Linked DNA regions of Homo sapiens. The protein of the gene in region 3 purifies or fractionates together with the protein of the main gene of each other region. This does not show direct contact. Each region holds a gene or a part of one and is shown on either strand. Other genes may lie near its edges.

Region 1 (3,500 bases), on a different chromosome or scaffold from region 3:
TCAAACTTTTATTGATTTTCTGTGTCTGGTTATAAAAATAGGAAGGGTCCAAGGCAACAATTTTAGAAAATAAAACCAGAAATCAGTTGGGATATTCCAGCCCAAAGACTGCCACCTAATAGACTGTTCCCCAGTTTTTCACCATTACTAAAGTGAATGCAAAACTTTCGTATCACTGTATTCTTACCTAAGGCTTCCCACTGCCTATAGGATAAAGTATAAGCCCCATTCAGGGAGCATTTACCTACTTTCCCAGTCTTATGACCTGCAATTCCAAGAGTATCATCCTCACAGATACTCTTTGCTAACACCTCTCCCTTTATCTGCTATGCAGACTCCTCTAAATCCTAACACTGCTCAAAAGTTACCTCTTGTGTGAAATATCCCTGGCTTCTCTCCTGTCTCACTGTGTCCTCTCCTTTAGGCCTTTCGTAGCTACCTCTTATAAGCCTGTATTGTTTTGCCCACTCTTAGAAGGTCCTACAAGCAGAAACTGTCTCTTACACATTTTTGTGTTGCCATACCGAACATTATGGCCTGCCACTTATTGGGCACTCAACCTCTGCATGTTGAAAATGTACTTTTAAAATGTTAACTCAAAATGTTTAGAGTTAAGGGGGAAAATATCCTCAATATATTCAAAATGCACAAACATAGGTTCTCAACTAATTCAAATTCCAAAACTTTTAGAAATATTCACTCACTGTTGCCACAGGACACCTGAGAGAGCTAACACCTGATAATTTGTAACCATATAGGCTACTACTAAGTCTACCACTTACCCTCTGATTTTTAAAGAAAAGCATTCCTTAGTCTGGGCTGAGTCGACTGCTTTATAGCTTGTCCCTCAAAAACATAATTTGAGCTAAAGGCCAAATAAAAATATATACTATATGACCATTTATATAAATTTTTTCAAGCATAGCCAAACTAATTTAATGTGTCAGAAGGTAGGATAATGGTTTCCTTTGGGAGCACTATACGGAAACGGTTGGGAAGAGGCAAGAGAAAGGCTGCCGGGATGCTAGAAACCTCTTCTTGACTTGGGTAGTGTTTACACTGGTAGGTTCACTATGTGGTAATTATGACTTGTGTACTTTTCTGTATTTGTCCATAAACTTAAAAAATTTATACTTGAGAAGTTTGTTCTCTAGTAATTGTTGATAATGTGTCTGAATAATTATGTGTTTACTCATAGGGGAAAAATGAAATTGGATTTTATAAAAGGCAAAGTAACTCAATCAGCACAGTGGAACTCTACTATATTTTAATTCATCTTGGTTAAAGAAACATCTAGATCAGGTTTTAACATATGATCCACCACTTTTAGACTTATTACATTGTATAGTCCATCTTAACTATACCATTTCTAATTTCCAGTAAGACAGCTCAGTAGTTAAGGTAACATCCAAAAATTTCTTTCATAGCCATCAACAATTTAAGTCCCCCTGCCCCTTTTTAAAAAAAACTATCAGTCATGCCTGACACAAACAACTGCTTTTCATAATCTTCCCAAATAATTTCTATATTGTTCCATCTTATTGGCCTTTACTGTTTGTAATTCCTGCTTTATGAGAAAAAAATTTCAATAGGGTTTCCTAATTTGTTAATATCTTTTCATGTGGCAAAAATACTAACTCTAAGATATGCTTGTTTTCTCCCAAAAATGTTTCTGTCCAGTTATACCAATGAAATTGGTCCACTTTCCTTTATTAAAGGAAAATTTAAGTATGCTATCAAATTCTCTAGTCAAATTTTAACCTGAGGTTACCTCAGACTGTGCAATGTGTACCTGCACAAACTGAATGTGGTCATCATCACTGCCAAACACCTCAGCCTGTCCATCTAGTAGGTTCCCATCAAGCAGCTTGTGATCAGCTGAGTAGTACAAGGTTTGAACCTGCAAAACAGCAACAGAACACCCATGTGGCTACGGTCACCATGGCTACTCCACTAGTATGCAGATTACACAAACGCCTCAAGGTAACCTCCAGTGTGCTTCTTGAGCTTCTTGACATATTACTCTGGCAGGATCCGGAGGTAAAGAAAAATACATGTCATGGTGGTAAAAATTAAAAAACAAAAACAAAAAACCAAAATCAAATACAAAATCTTCCAATACTGGCTGAAGAGTCGTTGGCTTGATTGGCTTGAAAGAAATCTTCATTTTTTTCATAGCTTCTATCATATAACAGTAAGAAAAAAAGCACTAGTACAATATATACTCTTAAAGAATATACATATTTACAATAAAATACTGAATATAGTTTACACCTTTGCAGATAAGTGGTCTGGTTTGCATAAACATATTTCCTTCCTGTAAGCAATGTCAAGAAAAACAAAGAAAAAACAAATGCAAAAATTCAAGCAAGCTGTAGAGTCATCTCCATTGAGACAGATGCAAATACATGGCAAATGCATCTGACTTTCAAGTGGGAATCATAGAATTTAAAGATAATCTGTTAGCCCTTTTAGACCATAATGATGACAGTGTTTCTGCAGGCCTAACAGATTTGGTAAGCCCTCATAAAGGAACTCCGAAAGGTTTAAGTGGAGAGAGAAACTCAAGGTTACTCCACTGCTCCACCTGCGTGTTTTCAATTCCCACCATTTCTCCATCAATTTTATCTTGTGTATTTTTTTTAAAAGTAGCCCAAGTTAAGTGAGTGACTATATGTATGAACAACACCATTGAAAAACACACAGCTTTAAAGACAAGAATCCTGTAAAGGAGTAAACACCATTAAATCATCATCGTTCTCTGCCCACAGCGGATTTTTCTTAGGAGAACTGGGGCAGGACTGCTGCTTCTTTACGTGTCAATACACTTGAGGTTTCTTCTTGTTTCTTCAGTCTTGGGTATCCTAGTTTTGTTAATAAACCTATGGGGAGATAAATCAATGGGGAGGAACAACCATTAGAAGCTTTTACCTACTTGTCAAATTTAAAGCAAAAACCTGTGAAGAAAAATTAAGAATCTACAGAAAATTTCAGTACCACTTCCCATTTCTAAAGCAAATTACATGCTACTTTAAAGAAAGTTAACAGCACATAATAAGCAAAGAAATAAAAAAAGAAAAGCAGAAGACCAAACTGAACAGTTCATTCAGCTCACCTGGACACCCCCCCTGTTTCTCAGCTTAGGGGTACCTATAGCAAAATTTAAATTCTTTAGGGTCATGGTTATAAAATAAAAGTGAAAGGGAATCCTTCATGTTATAGCAAAATAATTTTTAAAAATGGTTGAATCCCATTTACTTTAAAACTAACCTCTTCCATCAGCTCTTCCAGACTGTCTCCATTCTCCCAGATGCTACGCTGCACCCAGTTGATTACCTTTGTATATAATTTGCCATTGCTGGGCAAGCAAACATTATCTTCAAGCATTACCTCCAACTAGAATTGGGAAAAACAATGACATGGATCAGTGTTGGGCTCCTAGTTCTCAGCTTAATTCCCAATTTCATAATAAAGTTGTCACAGATGCACAATTCATTCCA
Region 2 (3,500 bases), on a different chromosome or scaffold from region 3:
TTAAAATTTCATTTTAATCTTAAATGATTAAATAATTAAATTGAATCTTAAAGATTAAATTTCATTTTAATCTTAGTTGCCATATAAATTTGCCTTCAGGCATTCCATTATGGTTTACCTGAAACAAAGTAATAGAAAATAAAATTATATGCAAAACAATTAAAGAATTAAACCTTAAGTTGCAAGAAACTTAATGGTATTTCCTGTTTAACAGGTTAATTTTCAGGTTTGTTCTATTCCTGAGGGTTATCTGACCTAGAATTGGGGAAAGGTGATGGGGAGGAGGCAGGGGAAGAAAAAACAAAACAAGGTTTTCCTCACATGCTAATAGCTATTATTCAAAGAATAAAAGGGGAGACAGAACTAACATTTATTAAGTACCCACTAGGTTTAAGAGTGCTTAAAAAAAGTCACTGTGCCAAGTGAGACCACGCATTTTATTTAATCTTCCTCATGATCCATTAAAAGTAGAAGTATCCTCATTTTCCAGATGAGTAAGGCTCACAAGTGTAAAATGATTTGTCTATAGTCACTTAGCTAACAGAGGCAGAAGGGGAAATTAAATCCAGGGCCTCTCTAATTCTGAAGCTCACATTCTACCCACTATGCTATGCTGCCTTCACTACAAAGGTAAAGAATAAAAGCTTTCTAAAAATTATGCAAATTTTTAGAAGACTTACAAAACCATTTAAGCTAAGAATGAGATATGTGAATAAAAAAGAGTGAAAGACTTGGTCCTAAAAGAAACTTGCAGTGCTTCCCAAATAAGAACAGAAATTATGTGCTAGATAAGAATAAACAACTGGATTTAGACTTGCCATTTTCTCCAAGGACATAAAACCAAGCTCGATTATTCATTCCTACAGCCAGATGATAAAGACCTACTGCCACAAAGTTGGGTTCCACATCAACAGAAACTGTGATTGGTAGCTCCTATAATAAAGAAAATAGTAATAAATCAACGGCTAAACTTATTTTATTAATAAATAAAAGAAAAATAACACCATTTTCATACTCCTTCAACAGGGTTGGCTACGGTGACTTCAAGGAGGGAGGTGAGATAGGCAATCCTTGTGCTGCAGGCATCCCCAAGTATGGGAAGCTTGGTCAGGAAAACATGAAGTGAGCCCCTTTGGGTAGAGAGTGCTAGCAACTGGCCATCATCAGTCCAGGACAAGGTACCCAATCCTGAAATAATCGACAAAATAAATGATTATTCAAAAACAATATATAGTTGCAGGCAGCAAACAAATATTTTCATTTAAGCTACCAGAGACATAACAATTTTCAAATATTTTCCTTACTAGTTTAAGTAGTTTTTTTTTTAGACTAGGAAATTTGCCATGGATTGGCATAAGAATATGAGCACTGGCTCATTCCCTGTGGCTCAAAGGGAAAGTACAGTTATGTGTCACTTAACAACAGGGCTATGTTCTGAGAAATCTGTCATTAGGTGACTTTGTTGTTGTGTGAACATCATAGAGTGTACTTACACAAACCTAGATCAAATAGCCTACTACGTACCTAGGCTATATGGTATAGCCTATTGCTCCTAGGCTATAAGCCTGTATGGCATGTTACTGTACTGAACACTGCAGGCAAATGTAACACAGCAGTAAGTACTTGCACATTGAATCATATCTAAATATAGAAAATGTACAGTAAGCCTGAGCAACAAAACAAGACGCTGTCTCAAAAAAAAAGAAAGAAAGAAAGAAAGAAAGAAACAAAGAAAAGGTAGTAAATATGGACCATGTATGTGGACTGAAACGTCATTATGTGGGTCATGACTGTATATAAGAATTTATACTTTACATTAGAATTAGGATAAAATTCACTATAAATCTCTGGATCAAAGTAGACATATCTTTCTAGTCAAGCAGTATGACAACATAATTACTAAAATAAGGAGACTATTTTAGGGAACTCTAGTGAAGAGTATTAAAATTTATTTCTGGCCAGGCACAGTGGCTCACGCCTATAATCCCAGTACTTTGGGAGGCCAAGGCAGGCGGATCACCTGAGGTCAGCAGTTCGAGACCAGCCTGGCCAACATGGTGAAACCCCATCTCTACTAAAAATACAAAAATTAGCTGGGCGTGGTGGCACGTGCCTGTAATCCCAGCTACTTGGGAGGCTGAGGCAGGAGAATAGCTTGAGCCTGGGAGGTGGAGGTTGCAGTGAGCAGAGATCATGCCATTGCATTCCATCCAGGGCTACAAAACAAGAATCCATCTCAAAAAAAAAAAAAAAAATTATTCCTCCTACAACGAATGCAAATCACACGATAACAAACACAACCTTACTCTCTGTAACTGGAATGATAAAATGTCAATCTGCTTCAGAAAAATCAATACCTTTATTTTCCTCATCCAGGTTGAGTATAACATACATGTCTTTTAAGTCAACCAAGTCTTGGATTTTAATGCTGAAAAACAAAAATGCATTATTAAAAAATATATATGATCTTTATATAAAACTGTTTTAATTCACAAAAAATTACAAACCATGGAATAGGTTACTGGTCTCCAAAATGTGATGTACAGAATGATCTACTGGGTTAAGAAAATATTAGAATTTCTGTACTTCATTATATTTTATCTTTAAACTTTTGGGTTTGTTGTTGTTGTTTGTTTGCTTACTGTGTGCAGAGATGGGGGGCGGGTAGGGTTGTGCCTGGCTTAATCTCTGATCTATAGCTTCAGGAATAAGGAGGTTAAAATTGTCCTGAAGAAATTTGGGTACGAAAATATTCTCCTGAGTAGTATTAATTATTGTAAGATGATACAGGTTTCTCTTTACAATGTGTTCCCTTTCTCCCCTGCCCAGAGTTCTTTCATACAAAAGGAAGTGAATTATAGTATAGAAAGAACATTAAATTTGGATCAGAAGGATCAGGTTGAAAGCTCTGAAAAATGCGGGCATAACATTATTTCATAAGGTTGTAGTAAGAATAAGTAAGTTGATGTAAATGAAAGTTGTGTAGTACAATGTTGGGAACTAATAGTTGTAACATTTCTTTCCTCCTAACCTCCTTTTCTCCTTCTCTTCTCTTCCAGTGTTTTCCTCTTACCTTTTTTCCCTCATTATTTTCATTTAATTAAACTTTTAAGATAATTTCAGATTCACAGGTAGTTGTAAGAGGCAATATAGAGAGATAGAGAGATTCCATGTCCCCTTTTCTCCCAATAGTAACATCTTGAAACACTATAGTATAATACCACAATCAGGATACTGACATTGATAGAAACCACAAATCTTATTCCGACGTCCCTAGTTTTACTTGTACTTAGTGTGTGTGTTTACTTGTACTCAGTGTGTGTGTTTAGTAACTTTCTCACACATGAGATTCATGAGACTCACAACCATAGTCAGGATATAGATAGTTCCATGACCACAAGGATCTCTCATGTTGCCTTTTTATAAACACTCACCTCCTTCCTTCTGACCCCAGCTCCATCTCTAACCTCTGGGAATCACTAATCTGTTCTTTGTTTTTA
Region 3 (3,500 bases):
CATCAGCGGAGGAAGGTCCCCAGGGGATCACACAGGCAAGCTAGAGCTAAGGGCAGCTGGCTGCCAGCAGTCTAGAAACTCAGACTCTGTAACTTCCCATCCCCATCCCCAGCCTGACCTTCACCTGTTTTTTGACTCCATCTGTGCCTTGATTTTCCCATCTGCAAAATGGCCTGACCCTATGGTTTAAAGGTCTTTTTCCCAAAGGAAATGGCAAAAGTACTGTATGGATAGAAATCTACCAAAACCAGGAATGACCTGTGGAAAACGGATTAACGGAGAAAAGTTACAAGGACAGCATCATTGGCAAGAGGAAGGAATTTTCTTTATTTTTCTGTCACCCAGGCTGGAGTGCGGTGGCGTGATCTCAGCTCACTGCAACATCCACCTCCTGGATTTAAGAGACTGTCCTGCCTATGCCTCCCAAGTAGCTGGGATTACAGGCGCATGCCACCACGCCCAGCTAATTTTTGTATTTTTAGTAGAGACAGGGTTTCACCTTGTTAGCCAGGCTGGTCTTGAACTCCTGACCTCAGGTGATGCACCTGCCTCAGCCTCCCAAAGTGCTGGGATACAGGCATGAGCCACCGCGCCCAGCCAAGAAGAAGGAATTGTCTAACAACTGTGGTGCTCTCCATAGGAGATGGATCAATGGTTCTTACAAGTTTATTAAAATGTAGATTCTTGAACCCTACTCCCAGCGTACAGCTCAACATGATTCAGCTGACTATGTGAGGGACTGAACTTCAAGGTACAAAAAATGTAGGGTATGCTTTAAAAAGTCAGGATCAGCCAGGCGCAGTGGCTCAGGCCTGTAATCCCAACACTCTGGGAGGCTGAGGCAGGAGAGGAGCACTTGAGCTCAGGAGTCTGAGATCAGCCTGGGCAACATAGCAAGACCTCATCTCTACAAAACAAACAAACAAACAAAACAAAACAACTAGCCCAGGCATGGTGGTGCATGTCTGTGGTCCCAGCTACTCGAGAAGTTGAGGTGAGAGGATCGCCTGAGCCTAGGAGTTCAAGGTTACAGTGAACTATGATCATGCCACTGCACTCCAAACTGGGTGACAGAGCGAGACCCTGTCCCAAACAGAAAAATAAAAAGAAGAAAAAGGCCAGGGGCAGTGGCTCACGCCTTTAATCCCAGCACTTTGGGAGGCCGAGGCAGGTGGATCAACTGTGGTCAGGAGTTCGAGACCAGCCTGGCCAAGATGGTGAAACTCCATCTCTACTAAAAATACAAAAATTAGCCAGGCATGGTGGTTCATACTTGTAGTCCCAGCTACTCGGGAGCCTGAGGCAAGAGAACTTGCTTGAATCCGGGAGGCAGAGGTTGCAGTGAGCTGAGATCACGCCACTGCACTCCAGCCTGGGCAACAGAGTGAGACTCGGTCTCGAAAAAGAAAAAAAAGAAAAAGTCAGGATCCCATCCCTCAGAGTTCATTTCACAACTAGCAAATGCTTAAGAGAATTCAAGGAATACTGCTGGAGCTGATCAAGTCAAGCTTAAAATGGGAAAGCTGTAGTGGCTGAAACTGAAGGCAATTTGCTTTTCTCTTATTCCCTTAGCCACATATCAGTGTCTAGCCAGGTATGATGGCACACGCCTGTAGTCCCAGCTACTCAGGAGGATTGCCCGAGCCCAGAAATTCAACTCCAGCCTGGGCAATATAGTGAGACCCTGTTTCTAAATGGAAATAATAAAAATAAAACATAAATAATATGTTAATGTCTGTTACGGAAACCAAATAATTGATTAAGGAGATACACCTATCTATCTGCAGGTCACAGATTATTTTCAAAGACACGATTATCAGGGCTGTCAAAGGATGAAATAGATTGGCTTACAAGTGAACTCTTCATGGCTAGGAGTGTTCAAGGGAAGTTTAGAGGACCATCTGTTATGGCTGTGCTATGCAGACACTCTAAACCAGTACTGTCCAAAAGTACTTTCTGCATGAGCCTGTGTGTATATGAGTGAGCATTTGAAATGTAGCTAGTATGACTAAGAAACTGAATTTTTTCTTTTTAAAATCTTTTCTTCTTTTTTTTTTAATATGTATTTTCTTTATAGAAGCAAAGTCTCACTATGTTGCCCAGGCTGGTTTCAAACTCCTGGCCTCAAGTGTTCCTCCCACCTCAGCCTCCTAATCTGCTGGGATTATAAGCATAAGCCACCATATTCAGTCCTGAATTTTTTCTTTTTTAGAGACAGGGTCCTCACTGTGTTGCCCAGGCTGGAGTGCAGTGGCTATTCATAGGTGTGATGGTATTCAATCACGGCCTCGAACTCCTGGGCTCAAGCAGTCCTCCCAACTCAGCCTCCCAAGTAGCTAGGACTACAGGTGAGCACCTTGGCACACAGCTTGAACTTTAAATTTTATGTAATTTTAACTAATATAAATTTCAATAGCTACATGTGAGGCCAGGGCGCAGTGGCTCACACCTGTAATCTCAGTAGTCCAGGAGGCCAAGGCTGACGGATTGCTTGAGTCCAGGAGTTCAAGACCAGCCTGGGCAACATAGCGAAACCCTGTCTCTACTAAAAATATAAAAAATTAGCTGGCTGTGGTGGTGCACACCTGTAGTTCCAGCTACTTGGGAGGCTGAGGTGAGAGAATCATCTGAGCCCGGGAGGTCAAGGGTGCAGTGAGCTGTGATTGCACCACTGCAGTCCAGCCTGGGAAACCAGAGTGAGACGCTGTCTCAAAAAAATAAATAAATAGGCCAGGCGCAGTGGCTGATGCCTGTAATCCCAACACTTTGGGAGGCTCAGGCGGGAGGATCATGAGGTCAGGAGTTCAAGACCAGCCTGACCAACATGGTGAAACCCTGTTTCTACTAAAAATACAAAAATTAGCCAAGTGTGGTGGCACACGCCTGTAACCTCAGCTACTCAGGAGGCTGAGGCAGGAGAATCACTTGAACCCAGGAGGCAGAGGTTGCAGTGAGCCAAGATTGCACCACTGTACCCCAGCCTGGGTGACAGTACAGAGCGAGGCTCCATCTCAAAAAAATAAATAAATAAATAACTACATGTGGTTAGTGGCTATCATTTTGGACAGTGTGGGTCTGAATTTGAGGTCCCTTTGAGTGGCTGAGATGCTGTGAGTCAGCCAAATTCATGTGTGGGTTCTTATAGCTGGTGCCAACTTTGATGTGTCTATTAGGCTGGGATGGGGCATGCTAGGGGTGCCCCTGGGACTGTAAGACACCAGCTCAGACAAGAAGAACTCCTATTTATTCCACAAATATGTGCTGCATATTGGGGATTCACCCATATATGGAGACAGACAACTAAACAGGCAGCTATAGGGGTACATGATCAGGGCGTGAGGAGGTAATTACTGAGGCCTGGAGAGCTAAGGAAGGTGCCTGACCCAGCCCGCGTGGAGGAAATCTCGGCAGCCTTCCAGGAGGAGGTGACATCTATGCCAAAATAGAAAAGTGAATAGTCCAGGCACTGTGGCTCATGCCTGTACTCCCAGCACTTTGGG
Region 4 (3,500 bases), on a different chromosome or scaffold from region 3:
TGAACCCTGTTCAGGGTACACAGTTGATTCTCAAATATCTGTTATTGATGAACGACTGTTAGATTAATCTATAGTGAATAAAACTTGACATGATCAACAAGACCTGCACGACCTGGTTCCTACTCTTTTCTCTAGGCTAACCTTGCCCTGATGTTGCCTTGTTCTCCTTCTCTTCTTCTCTGTCACACAGAATTGATTCCAGTTCTTCACTCTCACCTGGCTTCCTTCTGCCTTCCCCCTCTCCTCCCATCTTATCCCTTAGAGCTCAGCTCAAACAGCACTTCTGGGGGACGCCTTCCAGTTAGGTTAGAAATGCTCATCATACTGTATGCTTTTCCCTTACAACCACATATCTGGTAAATCGTTTGATTAATGTCAGTCACCCCCCTAACTTTAGGCTGCCTGATCTCCAGCATCTGGCAAAGGACCCGGGCTTCATGCTCAGGAATTATTTTTAAAATGAATAATCACATAAACGGGGCTTGGCACATCATAAACTATTCTAAAGGCCTCTATGGAAAAGGATCAAACAAAAATAACAAAAAAAGCCCACTGGAAAAGCTCACCTGCAGGAGGCACCGGTTCGTCATGGCTCGATAGCAGGCTCTGTGGCTCTTGACTGTTGGCCTCTCCCCAAGGCAGTAGCCCCACTTCTTGACCATATGAAACCGCTTGGCGTGCCAGATGTGAGTTTCTAACCAAATGTTCTTCTTTTGTCTACGGTTAAATTCTAGCGTCCGGTTCATGTGACATCTTCGAGCTTTATGGCATTTATTTTTTGAATGTTCTTTTTTCTGATGTACGGCTTTCTCCGCCTATAGTTTCAAGTAGAGGGACATATCCCAGTTTGTAAGAATCTCAAAACAGAGTTAACGGTCAGGAATGCAAACAAATAACTTTAGATTAAGTGGAATATTTTATAGATCCCATTAGTTTGCTTAAATTGTTAACTTAGTTTCTTCAATGTAAGTAGAGAAGGAAGACAATGGAAAGAGTGAATGTTTTAGAGCTAGGAGACCTAGGAAGGAGGCACAGTTCCATCACTCACTAACTAGGCAAGTTTCATGGAATATGAAGATCAGAATACTTATAAAATGTTCAACACAGTAACACAAGCTTAATATGGCTATTAGTATTAGAGGGCAAGAAAGAAGAAATCAAATGCTAGCTTCTTGTTGTCATTTTAACCTGTAGAATTGTAACTAAAACCAAAAACTTAAGACCAAAAATAATACAAGTGAGGAAAACCCATACATTTCATCTCAGTTAAGCTACAGACATACACATGCTGAATGCTATCACTGGGAAACAGATTTTATATTAAATCTAGAAAGTATAAAATTCCTTGTTAGTTTTCCCTCTTGAACTCAAACCCCACCACCAGCATAGCAATGGTACATAGAAGGCTGCTCAATAAATAGGTTTTAAACCAATTAGTAAAGACATGGGCTTAATCTTAGAATGTTCAAGTCTAGAATTCTGGTGAAGCCAAAACACAATTAGACTTGTACAAAAATTAAAACCCAGTTCAAGTTTTCAACTTCGAAAAAGTCAGAAAGCAAATGCTAAGCATTGACATTGCTTTTTTTTAACCTTCCTACCCCAAGCTGGGCACACCCTAGAAACACAGATCCAAAACCACTCGGTAAGAGGGTCAGAGTTTTTTTTTAACATCTGGGAAGGGAACATCAACTATTCAACACCCTTACAAGAGAGGAGTATCAAATCCTATATTTCAAAGCACCCATAATAGCCAATTGCCTGTGAATTTCGTTTGAAGGGAAGAAGTTTGGATAATGATTAAATCAAATATATGCAAAACAAAAACAAAAACCATAAGGGTGATGTTTTCTGAGTTTTTTTTTTCTTTTTAGACAAGGTCTCACTGTCACCCAGGCTGGAGTACAGTAGCATGATCACAGCTCATTGCAGCCTCAACCTCCCCTGGCTCAGGGTACCCTCCCATCTCAGTTTCCAAGTAGCTGGGACTACAGGCACACATGTACCATCACGCCCAGCTAATTTGCGGATTTTTTTGTAGAGACAAGGTTAGGCCATATTGCCCAGGCTGGTCTTGAACTCCTGGGCTCAAGCAATCTGACCACCTCAGCCTCTCAAAGTGCTGAGATTACAGGCGTGAGCCACCATGCCCAGCCTTGGTTTTCATTTTTAATAAATTCTATTAGGTCAATACTTCTCAATTTCTTCTAGGAGCTACTAATCTAAACATTTACACTAAGTGGAACTCCTACCTCTTTCTGGGCAATCTCCTGTAACCGTCTGGGAAGGCGTTTGACGTTGTGGCTCATGGCTCTTCGTCGCATGTGCCGTGGCAGAGTCTGAAAAACCAGTGAATTCGAAGACTTCTGGGTCACAGCTTTTAACATAGCACTGATTTCAGCAGCTCGTGCTTGAGCAAAAGTAGAAGCTGTTGAAGGAGATGACAAAGTCATTAAACACCAATCTTGAATTAACATTGGAGAATAAACAGGCTGCTGGGGAAACTTAACTGAATTCCTCCACCAAGAAGGCGTAAAGAGAGACCAGAAAGCATATCTAAGGTATAGGTACAAGGTACAAGGAATATAGGGTTTAATTGTGGTAGTGTGGATGGGGATCATAGGGTGAAGAACAGAAGAGGATGGAAAGGGCCTGGAGACAGGCCCTTTAAATAAAGGTTTGGTTGCCATTTGTGTGTACTCAATTTTCCATCCTTGGAGAATGCTGTGCTGAGTGTGGATGGCATATTTAAAACAAGAGGGGCACGGGGGCTAAGACAAAGAGGAACAGTTCACAAAGACTTGTAAGAAGAAGAGTAAGAGACAGGGAGAGAAACTGAAGAAGGGAGAGCCATCAAGCCCAAGGAAGCTCTGGCCAAAGTCCAGGCTAGAGGCGAGAAGGGTCTAAAGTAGGAGGAGGAGAGGAGAGGTAGGGGAGGCAGAGCCAGGACCACAAGGAGGGCAGTTTGTTGCTGCACTAGACACGAGAGTTCAAAATACAAGCAAACTGCACCTCTTTATGAGTACCCACCAGTTATATACTTGGGGATCTCCTGAGACGTGCCCTCGGGACCTGCTTTCCATCCTCCCTTTTTTCTAAACATCCCTTTGGAGGAAGACTGCTCATTCACTTCAGGGTCAGGCAGAGAATGGGGGTTGACTCTGGTTTGCCGCTGTCGTGAAGTTCCAGGATGAGGCTCTAGTATATTTTCAAAAAGAAACATGTCACCTTTATCAGAGATAAACATTATAGTGGAGAACTAATATTTGTTGGGTGGCAACATTGACCATGTTTTTAATCCTATAGTCACCCTGTAAGGTGGCTATTACTACTTATTTTTAAAGAGGAATCTTACGTAGGAAGGTGAATTAACTTGCTCGAGGTCACAAAGCTAGTAGGTAGCACACAAGGTAATCATGTCAGGATGACATATAAAGGACCTTGGATATAACAGATACAGGTGAAATTTTCTCCTATAAACGGTGCAACATGAATTTCAA
Region 5 (3,500 bases), on a different chromosome or scaffold from region 3:
GTAATTTTAAAAGACTGTGGTGTCTCTAAAACATGAATACGCCGGCATTTAGGTAACATGTATCTACAGAATCATTTTTAAGTCTAGTAACAAAAGCAGCAATTCCTTTAAACAAAAAAAGATCAACAACTTTTGTTACGTAGGCACTAGTAATAGCTTTCAACTTTAAATTCCATGTGCACTTCTTGGATATGCCAAAAAATATTTGTCAATGAAGGAGACTGCAATGAAGGAACTGTTGAAATTCTGCTTCTATAAGCTTCAATAATATTTAAAATGCTGAAGGTCATCAGTTTAACACTAAAACTTCACTAGACAAAATACAGGTATGTTTCTGATTTGCCCAGTGAAAACATGGTACTTCTTAGGAAAAGAAGTGTAGGCGTCATCAGTAACTATAACCATGAACACTGGAGTATCTAAGCCTCTTCTGCCTGATAGCAAATGGGGCCCAGAGCTATCCTCCCTCCTCCTGAACCTTGACAGCATCATGTCCTAGCATAAAGGATCCCCCGAACTCTATGATGACGTCTGTGTACTCGATGGCCTCTGTAAGCAGTTCTCGAGTGGGATCTCTAGACCGGCACCATCAGAGCTACCTGGGAACTGGTGAAAAATGCAAATTCTAAAGTCCCAACCCAGACCTGTTGGATCAGAAATGCTGGTGCTGAGAACCAGCAATTGGGCTTTTAACAGCCCTCCAGATGATCTGATTCACATTACAGTTTGAAAAGTACTAGCCTGTGTCTTCCCCATGTGATGAATTTCAGTGCACTAATAAAGGGCTATTTTAATTTAAAATAATTTGGGGAAGGTGCTCAATGTCCTTTCTTACAACTCTGAGCAGATAAAGCTTCACATTAAATAATTTTCACTAAACCAAATATGAAAATATTCTTTTACCATGCTCTACACCCTTTTCTTTGATCATACTCAGGGAAAAACCAAAAGTGAAGAGTCAGTTACAGGTTAATTATGAAAGCTTTACATTATTCAAGTCTTATTCCTGTACATACGAAGAAGAATTTTTGTTTCAAAAAAATTTTAGGTAAAATTACTTCTGAACTTTTTCTTGATTGCACCACCTACAGATAAGCTCTCCAGATCTCATGTAAATCACTATGAATGGTAAAAAGGAACAAAGACATAACATACATTGAGATATTTTTTGCAAAGCACTCATATTACGTATATACACACCTGCATAAAATAAAAGGACTCAACCCCCTCAAAACCACAAACTGTTTTTTCCTACCATTGCAATAGCAATGCGGCCGAGCTCTACGACACGGCTGCTGCAAGACACAGACACAAGCACGAGCACTTACAACTGTACCTTCTGTGCTCACCGTGTCAACCACAGCATTGACAAGGTGCATTACGGTCACTATGGAAGCTTGCAAAAAGGTACAAAAGCAGTCAATTAGGAACATCTTCAGTTAGTTAGAAAACAGTGCATGAAATAAAGTTTTGTATTATACCATTTCTACCTCAGATTCCAACCGATGAGTGCTTTAATACAACCACATAATGATGCGTGGTCTCCTCACTGTTAGCTGTGTGTCTCAGAGACTTTTTTAATCGAGCTATATATTTGTTATTATTAATCAAAGGAATAACGTAAACATATTTTATTGGAATTTAAACAAAAAAACTTTTAGCTTTAAATTTTTTCACAATTACAATTATGCATCATGCCAGGCCAAAACGATTCTTATTTTAACATCTTACAGGCAAGACTCGACATTCCAAGACTACAGTCTGTGGTTCGCCACTCTTCCGGCTGCTTAATCACTCACACATTGTCCCCCAAAAAAAAGAAATTGAAGGAGAAACATATGCAATCTAAAACAAGAATGTTTTTGTCCCTGTTCTGATTGCTTTCCCTGCAAATTTCTCGTCTGTTTGCAGATGGACTAATCGCTGGTGAGCTAATGTACGAGTATAGGAGGAGACTCTGTCCGTCTGTTTCCTGTGTAAATTCCCTTTTCATTTGTGTATCAGATTGTTTTAAAATAACTATGCCAAGGTAAATATGTACGCATGTGGTAGGCAGAAGGCTGGCCCTCAAATAGTCCACGTCCTAATCCCAGGAGCCTGTGAATATGTCACTATACATGGCAAAAGGGACTTTGTTGACGCGGTTCAGATAAGGAAATTGAGATGAGGGATTTCCCTGGATTACCTGGGTGGGCCCAGTGTAATCATAAGGGTAACTTTTCTGCACAGAGGCGTTCCCAGTTACGGCTGGGGGGAGCTCTGCTGACAGAAGGGTGGTCAATGAAACACTGTGTTGCTGTCTCTGAGATGGAAGAAACCAAGAGCCAAAGAATGTGGGCAGCCTCTAAAAACCAGGAAAGGAAGGAAAACAGGTTCTTCCCTCGAGCTGCAGAAGGCAATGCAGCCCTACTGATCGCATGACTTAAGCCCTGTGAGACACAGGGGTTGGGCTTCTAAGCTACAGAATGACAGCAACACAAGTCTACATTGTTTTAGGCCACAAAGTTTGTGGTAATCTGTAATGGCCCTGGAAAACCGGGAATACGACGCAGGAACAGACTCTCAGCAGACTTTCAGTTTACAACTGATAATTACATTATGGTAATGAGTAAAATAAAAACACTCCTGTATATATGTTTTTTCTCTGCATTGTACTATCTGGAAGCTAGTTTTCATAACTAATTTGACCATAACTTATTGAAAGCACTTGGGACTATTTTTTTTTTTGAGACAGAGTCTCGCTCTGTCGCCCAGGCTGGAGTGCAGTGGCGTGACCTCAGCTCACTGCAAGCTACAACTCCCGGGCTCAGGCCATTCTCCTGCCTCAGCCTCCCCAGTAGCTGGGAGTACAGGTGCCCACCACCACGCCCGGCTGATTTTTTTTATATTTTTAGTAGAGACGGGGTTTCACTGCCAGGACGGTCTCGATCTCCCAACCTTGTGATCCGCCCGCCTTCACCTCCCAAAGTGCTGGGATTACAGGCGTGAGCCACTGCGCCCGGCCACCTGGGACTATTATTAAGAAGACTGATGTTCCAACAACAAGAACTAGAAAGAAAATGCTGATAAAATTCTGAAATGTATTTATAAAGAGCATTTAGGGGCCAAGATATAAATTATTACATAAACTGGAAACAGGAACTTCTTAGAATTAAAATTGATAAAAGACATAATTCTATCTTGTTGGTTTAACAAGCAAAGCTATGTCCATACACCCTATTCCTAATCAACACAGGTATATTTTGATACCATATATACGGTATCAAAATATACCTGTGTTGATTAGGAATAGAGTGTGTATATATATATATACTTGAAAGTATATATATATATATATATATATACTTGAAATCAGAAATGATAGCACATACTTATAGCTATCTTTAGTTTGAAAAATGACTGCAATAGATAATGACTATATGGATTTATGGACTATATGATGTATTATGGACTATATTACTCTGGATTGAATAATTATTAGTGGGGTTACCTTTTCCCAC
Region 6 (3,500 bases), on a different chromosome or scaffold from region 3:
GTAGAGACAGGGTTTCTCCCTGTTGGTCAGGCTGGGCTCAAACTCCTGACCTCAGGTGATCCACCCACCTCGGCCTCCCAAAGTGCTGGGATTACAGGCGTGAGCCACCACACCCAGCCCTCATTTTAAGAAAAATTTTACATTCTTCACTTGAGAATATGTCTTAGGCCGGGCATGTTGGCTCATGCCTGTAATTCCAGCACTTTGGGAGGCCAAGGTGAGAGGATCACTTGGGCCTAGGAGTTTGAGACCAGCCTGGGCAACACAGTCAGACCCCCATCTCCACAAGAAAAAAAAACAGTAATAACCCACAAATATATATGAAGTAATAACACATTTATATTTAAAAAAAAAAAAAAAAAGAATATGGCTGAGCATGGTGGCTCACACCTGTAATCCCAGCACTTTGGGAGGCCGAGGTAGGTAAATCACCTGAGGTCAGGAGTTCGAGACCAGCCTGACCAACATGGAGAAACCCCGTCTCTACTAAAAATACAAAATTAGGCTGGATGCCATGGCTCATGCCTGTAATCTCAAGCACTTTGGGAGGCTGAGGAGGGTGGATCATGAGATCAGGAGATCGAGACCATCCTGGCCAACATGGTGAAACCTCGTCTCTACTAAACACAGAAAATTAACACAGGTGTGGTGGTGGGCGCCTGTAGTCCCAGCTACTCGGGAGGCTGAGGCAGGGGAATTGCTTGAACCCGGGAGGCTGAGGTTGCAGTAAGCCAAGATTGTGCCACTGGACTGCAGTCTGGGTGACAGAGAGAGACTCTGTCTCAAAATAAAAATAAAAATAAAAATACAAAATTAGCCGGGCGTGGTGGTGCATGCCTGTAATCCCAGCTACTGGGGAATCTGAGGCAGGAGAATCACTTGAACCCGGGAGGTGGAGGTTGCGGTGAGCTGAGATCGCCCCATTGCACTATAGCCTGGGCAACAAGAGTGAAACTCCATTTCAAAAAACAAAAAGAGAATATGTCGGCCAAGCATGGTGGCTCACGCCTGTAATCCCAGCAATTTGGGGGGCCGAGGCAGGCAGATCACGAGGTCAAGAGATCGAGACCATCCTGGCCAACGTGGTGGAACCCCATCTCTACTAAAATACAAAAATTAGCTGGGTGTGGTGGCAGGCACCTGTAGTCCCTGCTACTTGGGAGGCTGAAGCAGGAGAATCGCCTGAACCCAGGAAGTGGAGCTTGCAGTGAGCCGAGATTGCGCCACTGCACTCCAGCCTTTCCACCCTTAGTAGCCCAGTAAAAAATGGCATCTCCGTGAATTTTGATATGTATTTCTATCATGAATAAAGCTAAGCATTTTATATTTGGGAACCACCCATATTTCCATTTGAATAAACTGTTCCTGGCCAGTCACAGGGCTCACATCTACAGTCCCAGTGCTTTGGGAGGCTGAGGCAGGAGGATTGCTTGAGCCCAGGAGTTCAAGACCAGCCTGGGCAACACAGCAAGACCCTGAGTCTATGAAAAAAAATTTAAAAAATTAGCTGGGGATGGTGGCACACTCCTGTATTCCCGGCTACTCAGGAGGAAGGAGGATTGCTTGAGCCTGGGAAGTTGAGGCTGCAGTGAACCAAGATGGCACCACCACAGTCCAGCCTGGGCAACAGAGCGAGACCCTGTCTCAAAAAAAAAAAAAAAAAGGCTAAGATGGTAAATTTTGTGTTCTGTGTGTTTTTACCCCCCACCATAGGTGAGTGCACCATTCCCTGTGTATGATCAGATGCCAGCGTGAAGGATGGCGAGTCTACACTTGCGGACCTCCTGGGTGTGCCGTATGTGAAACCTAGGGCAGGGGGCACCCACCGCAGCCTTCCTGGAGAACTCATAACCAAGCAAGCAGCCATTCCCACAGCCTCTGGGGACAGGAGACCTGAGCCGTGGTGCCTGCGTGGAGCCGAGCCCAGGCCCCGCTGGCCCCGTACCTTCCTGGCAGCCAGCAGCAGCTCTACCGCCCTCTCGTACTGACTGTGCTCGATGAAGAAGTCGGAGCAGCGGGCCAGGAGCGCAGGGTCTGACGTCTCATCCAGGTCCTCTGCTATGAGCTGTAGGGCCACAAACTGCTGGGTGGCAAAGGCCAGCTCCAGGGCCTTGGAGAAGTGGCCAGCCTGCGGATACGGTGGGCTCTGAGCAGCTGCCCGAGGCCTGGGGGCCCGAGCACGGAGGCCTCGCACAGGCAAGGGCCCCCTGGCTTGCTGCCCCTCCCCCAGGTCCCCACCGGTGGCCAGCCCTCACCTTGTGGTACAGCATGACCGCCCTGTCCATCTGCACGCCCTTCTCCTCGTAGTATCGGGCCGCCTCGATCATGTCCTCGGGGGAGCTCAGCAGGGCCAAGTTCATGAGCTGGTCGTCCAGGCCGTTCTCCTGCAGGGAGGGAGGCAGGGCCCTGAAGCGGCTCCCACTGGCTTCCCCAGGTCCGCTGAGATTCTGGAATGTGGCCGGGTGCGAACCCGCCCCTTCACTTTGACACACTGCTCAGCGATCTCTGCGGTGATGGGTTTTAAGGAGCTGATGACTTACTGGGTTTGTCTACAAGGATTTTCCGATGCTCTGGGTTCTATTTCACAGAGCACTGCAAGAAATACCTGACACGGGAGATGCTTCTGGAAGCGAGAGCCCAGGTTGGGACATTTGTGTGGTGCAGAACGCCCAACAGCTATCTAGGAAGGGTCTGCCGTCTGCAAGGCCATAGGCCGTGAGCAGCCTCACCACCCACTCAGGAGCCCTGGAGCCTGGGAAACATCTGGGGACAATTCAGTGCTTTGCAAACAATGTCAGATGGAAGCGGCCAGGGGTGGGCAGAGGGGTGGGCGGGTGAGGCAGACGGGGTGAGCAGTGAGTGGCAGACACTGGCCGGACCACGTGTCACTGACACGATTCTCTCTGTCCACTTTTCCACTTGAAGCTCTCCTCAGGGGACCTCGAGAAGCGCCGGCTCCCCACCCCGGGCCCGTGGTACCTTGCACAGGCGGATGGCATTCTTGAAGGCCTGTGCCCGGGTGTAGAAGTGCACCGCCTGCCCGACCTCCTCCTGGCTCTCGTACTGGCGGGCGAGGTGGTAGGAGGCCGCCAGGTTTCCTGTCTCGTTGGCTATTTGCGCAGCCTAGAAAGACAAAGAACCCAAAGACGAGACACGGTGGCCTTGTGTCTGCCTCGTGTCCGCCTGGCCGGCTCCCCTGCGGGGACCTTACCTTCTGGACATTGCCCTGGAAGCAGTGGATGCGGACCAGGGAGAAGTGGTCCCGGGCCAGCTCGTAGTAGTGCAGCGCGGCGTCCATCTCGCCCTGGCTCTCCAGGTACTGCGCCCACCACCGCCACAGGGTCCTGCGGGCAGCCCAAGACCATGGATTCTCCACCCGAGCCCCGCTCCAACCCGGGACGGCCCCCACCCCGCCCCTGTGCCACCCTTAGAGTGCATGTCACCTGACCTGCAAACAGGCTGGGCCAAGAGTGAGGACCCCTGGCTTTGTCCAAAGGGAG
Region 7 (4,057 bases), on a different chromosome or scaffold from region 3:
CTACAGGCGTAAACCACCATGCTCGGCCTAAGTTTTGTTGTTGTTGTTTTAAGCAAAAATCTGTGGAGGAGGAAACATCTCCCAGTTTGCTCTCATCTGAGTCTGCTTCTTACATGAGATGGGTCTAAAGACATTTTAGGGTAAAAGAAGAACGGTAGGATGTTTTAAATGTACGAATACATAAAAATGGAAGTCTTTGAAAAGGAAGACAACAGAAACGTTAACAACGAAGGGAGTGAGCAGAATGAAGAATGGCATAAAAGAGCAAAACCCCTTCTGAACAGCTGGAATATGACACCAGAGTACTAAAGACTGGTAATGCCATCAGGATATGAATGATAACGCACACCTCGTAAAGAATTTTTTATGCTGGCTGTGAAATTTGAACTGATAGAGTGGGGTGGCTGTGGCAGGGAAAGCTGGTGAGACAATTATGCTAATGGCAGGGCCAGACGACTGGGTGAGTGCTTAAATGGTGTCGTAAGTCTTTATAAACCTTGGCACATACGTTTGAGTACTGGTCATCTACTGTAAGCTTGGGACAATTCTACTGGTATTTCCTTACATTTATTACCCAGTCCCTCCCCTGTCCCCCAACACCTGAAACTTTAAAAACAATCTTTCCAAACTAGCTTTGAAGAGCTGTACTTTTCCTTCGTATGTACGTTGTTTAAGTACGCTGATAGCAACGCAATATGACAATTCAAAGGGAATCCCGTCTTCTAATCTCAGGGTTTTCATTCTGGGGAACTCTCCCTGCATGTGAGGATTAGGGAGCCCGGAAAGCCCGTTTCAACTTTTCAGTTCTGAGTCCCGAGTCACTACTCTGCCCTGTACCGTCTGGAGACTTAATGGGAGCGAGTGCGAGGCAGTGAATTCTCCGCTCTCTAGTTTTCCAATTCTACGGTCTTCAAAAAAAGGTTTGCTCTTGAGCTGCGCCTAAACTGAGAAGCGGGAAAGGCTAGCCCCGCTAAAGGCGGACGAGTGGCAGAAGCGGAAACCCAGTTAAGAGAAGGGACTGCCCTGGAGAGCACAGAAAGCGAAGGTTAGCGGGGGAAAGCGGCGCCCCTCCGAGGAAACCGACACCGCCCCGCCACGCCAAGGCAATGGGCGCCACCACGCAGCGCCGGGAACGCGCGCCGACGCCCCGCGCTCCGCCGGCGTCCGCCCGTCCCCGCGCGCCCCCTCGCACCCCACGCGCGGGAGGCGGGGCCGGCGGGGGCGCGCGCGGGGCCGCGGGTAGGGGGGCGGGGCGGCAGAGCTCGGCGGCTGGGACTGGAGGACAGCGGTGGCGGAGGCGACTAGCGGCGGCGGGAGCGGCGCCGAGAGGCCGTGCGGGACGCGGGCGCCAGGACCGGCCGAACGCAGAGGTAACGCAGGACCGAACAGGCGGCCGGGGAGTGGGCGCGGGCTCGCTGGGCCCCGAAGGCGAGTGGCGGAGGCCGCTCGCCCGGGGCGCCGACGCCGCTCCCAGAGAGGAGGGGGCGGGGCGCCCGGGTCCCCGGAGGTGGCGCCTTTTGTCTGCCTTACCCGGCCGCTCCGCCCCGCTCCCTTCCTCTCTCCTGCGACCTAGCCCCCTGCCCTTTTGGTGGACTCCTCCTCAGGGGCCCTCCGGCGCGCGCGCTCCCGCCCTTGTTTTGTTTGGATTTGGGGGAGGAGGGGGAGCTCTTCTCTGGCCGTGCGACCCTGCGTCCCAGCGCGCCTGCGTCGGCGTCCTCTGCCCGCCCCGATTGGCTGAGGGCTGCGCATGCTCCGAGGCCCGCCGCGGTCCGGCGTCCGCCCGCGCCCTCCCCTCACCCCACTCCCTCAGCGGTTTTCGGAGCCGGTTCGAAAGATGCCGGCGGCGGTGACTGGCTGCGGCGGGCCCGCCCCCCGGGTTCTCCGCCCCCGCCGCCGCCATTACGGAGCTCCCAGTGGTGAGTGTGCGGAGCGCCGAGGCTCGCGTTCCGCCGCTGCTTCCGTCGCCGGGGCGGGCGCCGCGGTGTCCCTGCCGAGCGTGAGCCCCGAACTGTCACCGCGCCGAGCCCCAGCCTCATCCGTCGGTGTCCGCGGTCCGAGCTTTCCCCGCCTCGCTGGCGGCCCGCGCTCTCCCCCGCCGTGCGCGTTCGCCGCTGTGGCCTGTAGCTACCTCGCCTCGCTGCTTTGTCTCCGCTGCTCTTGCCGTCCTTCCCGCGGCCTTCTGCGGGCGGGGCTGTCGGCTGTCGCTTTGCTGCTCCGCGACGGCGGCCTTGAGTCTCGCTCCCCCGGTGGGAAACGTAGAACTGGTTACTCGCCACCTTAGGCGGTGGGGTTTGAATGAGAGCGGTGCCTCGGTAGGTCGTCAGAAAGTTACAGTCGCCCATCTGAGCGTTTGTAAGAGATGGAGGCAGGAGTGGTGAGGTGAGAGCCCCAGATCTGAGGGTTGGTACTGCATTAACAGCTGTGACCGGGGACAGCCACTTAACCTTTTTGAGAAAGAGTTGTCTCCCGTACGGAGACCGGACCGGGTGAACTGTGCTGCCGCATCCGCGTGCACGTTCTCTCTGTTGTTTATTGTGCTTCCTGACTTTGCATTGCATTAAAAAGTGAGAATCCAATTCGAAATAACGTCTAAAAATCGCCTGGGGCTTTTTGAGCACGCTGTCTTGTCTTAGAGTGAAATTAGAGGTGACTAGTGTCATTTTTGAAAGGTGCTCTAATTTTGTTTAACCTGACATAGGCAAAAAACTTGTTAGCTTTTTGATTTTTCATTGCTCTTCTCAAAAGTTTAGTGTAATTTGTTTCAAAATAGAAGTAACATTTTAAAGTTTGCTGGGTTGGTTGGTTTTGGCTTTGTTTTTAAGCTTGCTTGGAAGATTGTAGGGCTGGAAGTTAGTGGAGAACGTATACTGAACTCTTCATTTCCGGATGAAAGTTTTAACTCCTTACCCAGTTAGATTGTGATTTTATTGAGATGAGACACTGTAGTGTCCTTAGTATCTATGCCCAAAACAGACACTGAGTATATGTTTGCTTATATAACTTACATTTGAAAATGAAAAACAAGTGGTGTCAGCAGTCAAATTACAGGCATGCTTTTTGTGACATGACTCGTTAAATCTGAGTGTAGTGAATGACTTAAGATTGGGAACAATGTGAGGTGTTCAGCGCATCACTAATGACATGTATTACATATATTTTATGGTAAAATGTGAAATTATAGTGCTTTCCCTAAAATGCATATTATCAAGGATATCAGTAAACTGAAATACGTTGTTAAACTCCTCACTTTTCTACAGCCTTCTCTTAATGTAGAGGAAATAAATTAAAACTGAAATTTGGGGCTTTTTATTTCTACAATACTTTTTTTTATTGCTTGCATTCAAATAATTTAAAGCCGTGCATGGTGGCTCACACCTGTAATCCTAACACTTTGGGAGGCCAAAGAGGAGGATCGCTTGAATCCAGGAGTTAGAGACCAGCTTGGGCAACCCTGTCTCTACAGAAAATACAAAAACTATCCGGCTGTGGTGGCGCATACCTGAAGTCCCAGCTACTCAGGTGGCTGAGGTGGGAGGAGATCGCTTGAGCCCAGGAGGTCGAGGCTACAGTGATCCCTGGTCATGCCACTGTACTCCAGACTGAGACTCTGTCTCAAAATAAACAACCGATTTAATTTAAGCATTTCCCTTGACAAAAAGCAAATATTTGTTATTGTTGTAACATTAAGTTTAAGCAAGCTGATGTTCATAAGAGGACCATGTAAACCACAAGTAAACTCAGACTGTTTATTTTTGGCACATATAAAAACCAAGATGAAAAACATGAATAGGCCGGGCACGGTGGCTCACGCCTGTAATCCCAGCCCTTTGGGAGGCTGAGGTGGGCGGATCACGAGGTCAGGAGATCGAGACCATCCTGGCTAACACGGTGAAACCCCGTCTCTACTGAAAATACAAAAAATTAGCTGGGTGTCGTGGCGGACGCCTGTAGTCCCAGCTACTCAGGAGGCTGAGGCAGGAGAATGGCGTGAACCGGGAGGGGAGGTTGCAGTGAGCCGAGATCGCGCCACCGCACTCCAGCCTGGGCGACAGAGCAA

What was found.
Region 1: the proteins of NIPSNAP1 (region 3) and IVNS1ABP purify together in Homo sapiens (affinity purification with mass spectrometry; one large-scale study listed by BioGRID and IntAct). This does not show direct contact.
Region 2: the proteins of NIPSNAP1 (region 3) and WDR19 purify together in Homo sapiens (affinity purification with mass spectrometry; one large-scale study listed by BioGRID and IntAct). This does not show direct contact.
Region 4: the proteins of NIPSNAP1 (region 3) and POP1 purify together in Homo sapiens (affinity purification with mass spectrometry; one large-scale study listed by BioGRID and IntAct). This does not show direct contact.
Region 5: the proteins of NIPSNAP1 (region 3) and FAT1 purify together in Homo sapiens (affinity purification with mass spectrometry; one large-scale study listed by BioGRID and IntAct). This does not show direct contact.
Region 6: the proteins of NIPSNAP1 (region 3) and IFT140 purify together in Homo sapiens (affinity purification with mass spectrometry; one large-scale study listed by BioGRID and IntAct). This does not show direct contact.
Region 7: the proteins of NIPSNAP1 (region 3) and HP1BP3 purify together in Homo sapiens (affinity purification with mass spectrometry; one large-scale study listed by BioGRID and IntAct). This does not show direct contact.

The regions. Positions count from the first base shown.
Region 1 is NC_000001.11:185,303,744-185,307,243, forward strand, and holds part of IVNS1ABP (influenza virus NS1A-binding protein), read right to left. Parts: intron 3,397-3,500; coding exon 3,271-3,396; intron 2,885-3,270; exon of another isoform or gene 2,745-2,884; coding exon of another isoform or gene 2,742-2,744; intron 1,901-2,741; coding exon 1,793-1,900; intron 1-1,792. UniProt on the Homo sapiens protein: Involved in many cell functions, including pre-mRNA splicing, the aryl hydrocarbon receptor (AHR) pathway, F-actin organization and protein ubiquitination.
Region 2 is NC_000004.12:39,213,529-39,217,028, reverse strand, and holds part of WDR19 (WD repeat-containing protein 19), read right to left. Parts: intron 2,429-3,500; coding exon 2,358-2,428; intron 1,189-2,357; coding exon 1,016-1,188; intron 934-1,015; coding exon 819-933; intron 1-818. UniProt on the Homo sapiens protein: As component of the IFT complex A (IFT-A), a complex required for retrograde ciliary transport and entry into cilia of G protein-coupled receptors (GPCRs), it is involved in cilia function and/or assembly.
Region 3 is NC_000022.11:29,564,114-29,567,613, forward strand, and holds part of NIPSNAP1 (protein NipSnap homolog 1), read right to left. Parts: intron 1-3,500.
Region 4 is NC_000008.11:98,127,293-98,130,792, reverse strand, and holds part of POP1 (ribonucleases P/MRP protein subunit POP1), read right to left. Parts: intron 3,199-3,500; coding exon 3,031-3,198; intron 2,429-3,030; coding exon 2,253-2,428; intron 816-2,252; coding exon 567-815; intron 1-566. UniProt on the Homo sapiens protein: Component of ribonuclease P, a ribonucleoprotein complex that generates mature tRNA molecules by cleaving their 5'-ends. Also a component of the MRP ribonuclease complex, which cleaves pre-rRNA sequences.
Region 5 is NC_000004.12:186,591,357-186,594,856, forward strand, and holds part of FAT1 (protocadherin Fat 1 isoform 1 precursor), read right to left. Parts: intron 1-3,500.
Region 6 is NC_000016.10:1,521,573-1,525,072, forward strand, and holds part of IFT140 (intraflagellar transport protein 140 homolog), read right to left. Parts: intron 3,345-3,500; coding exon 3,212-3,344; intron 3,124-3,211; coding exon 2,980-3,123; intron 2,385-2,979; coding exon 2,256-2,384; intron 2,129-2,255; coding exon 1,946-2,128; intron 1-1,945. UniProt on the Homo sapiens protein: Component of the IFT complex A (IFT-A), a complex required for retrograde ciliary transport and entry into cilia of G protein-coupled receptors (GPCRs).
Region 7 is NC_000001.11:20,784,508-20,788,564, reverse strand, and holds the start of HP1BP3 (heterochromatin protein 1-binding protein 3), read left to right. Parts: upstream 1-1,257; 5' UTR 1,258-1,370; intron 1,371-1,892; exon of another isoform or gene 1,893-2,379; intron 2,380-4,057. UniProt on the Homo sapiens protein: Component of heterochromatin that maintains heterochromatin integrity during G1/S progression and regulates the duration of G1 phase to critically influence cell proliferative capacity.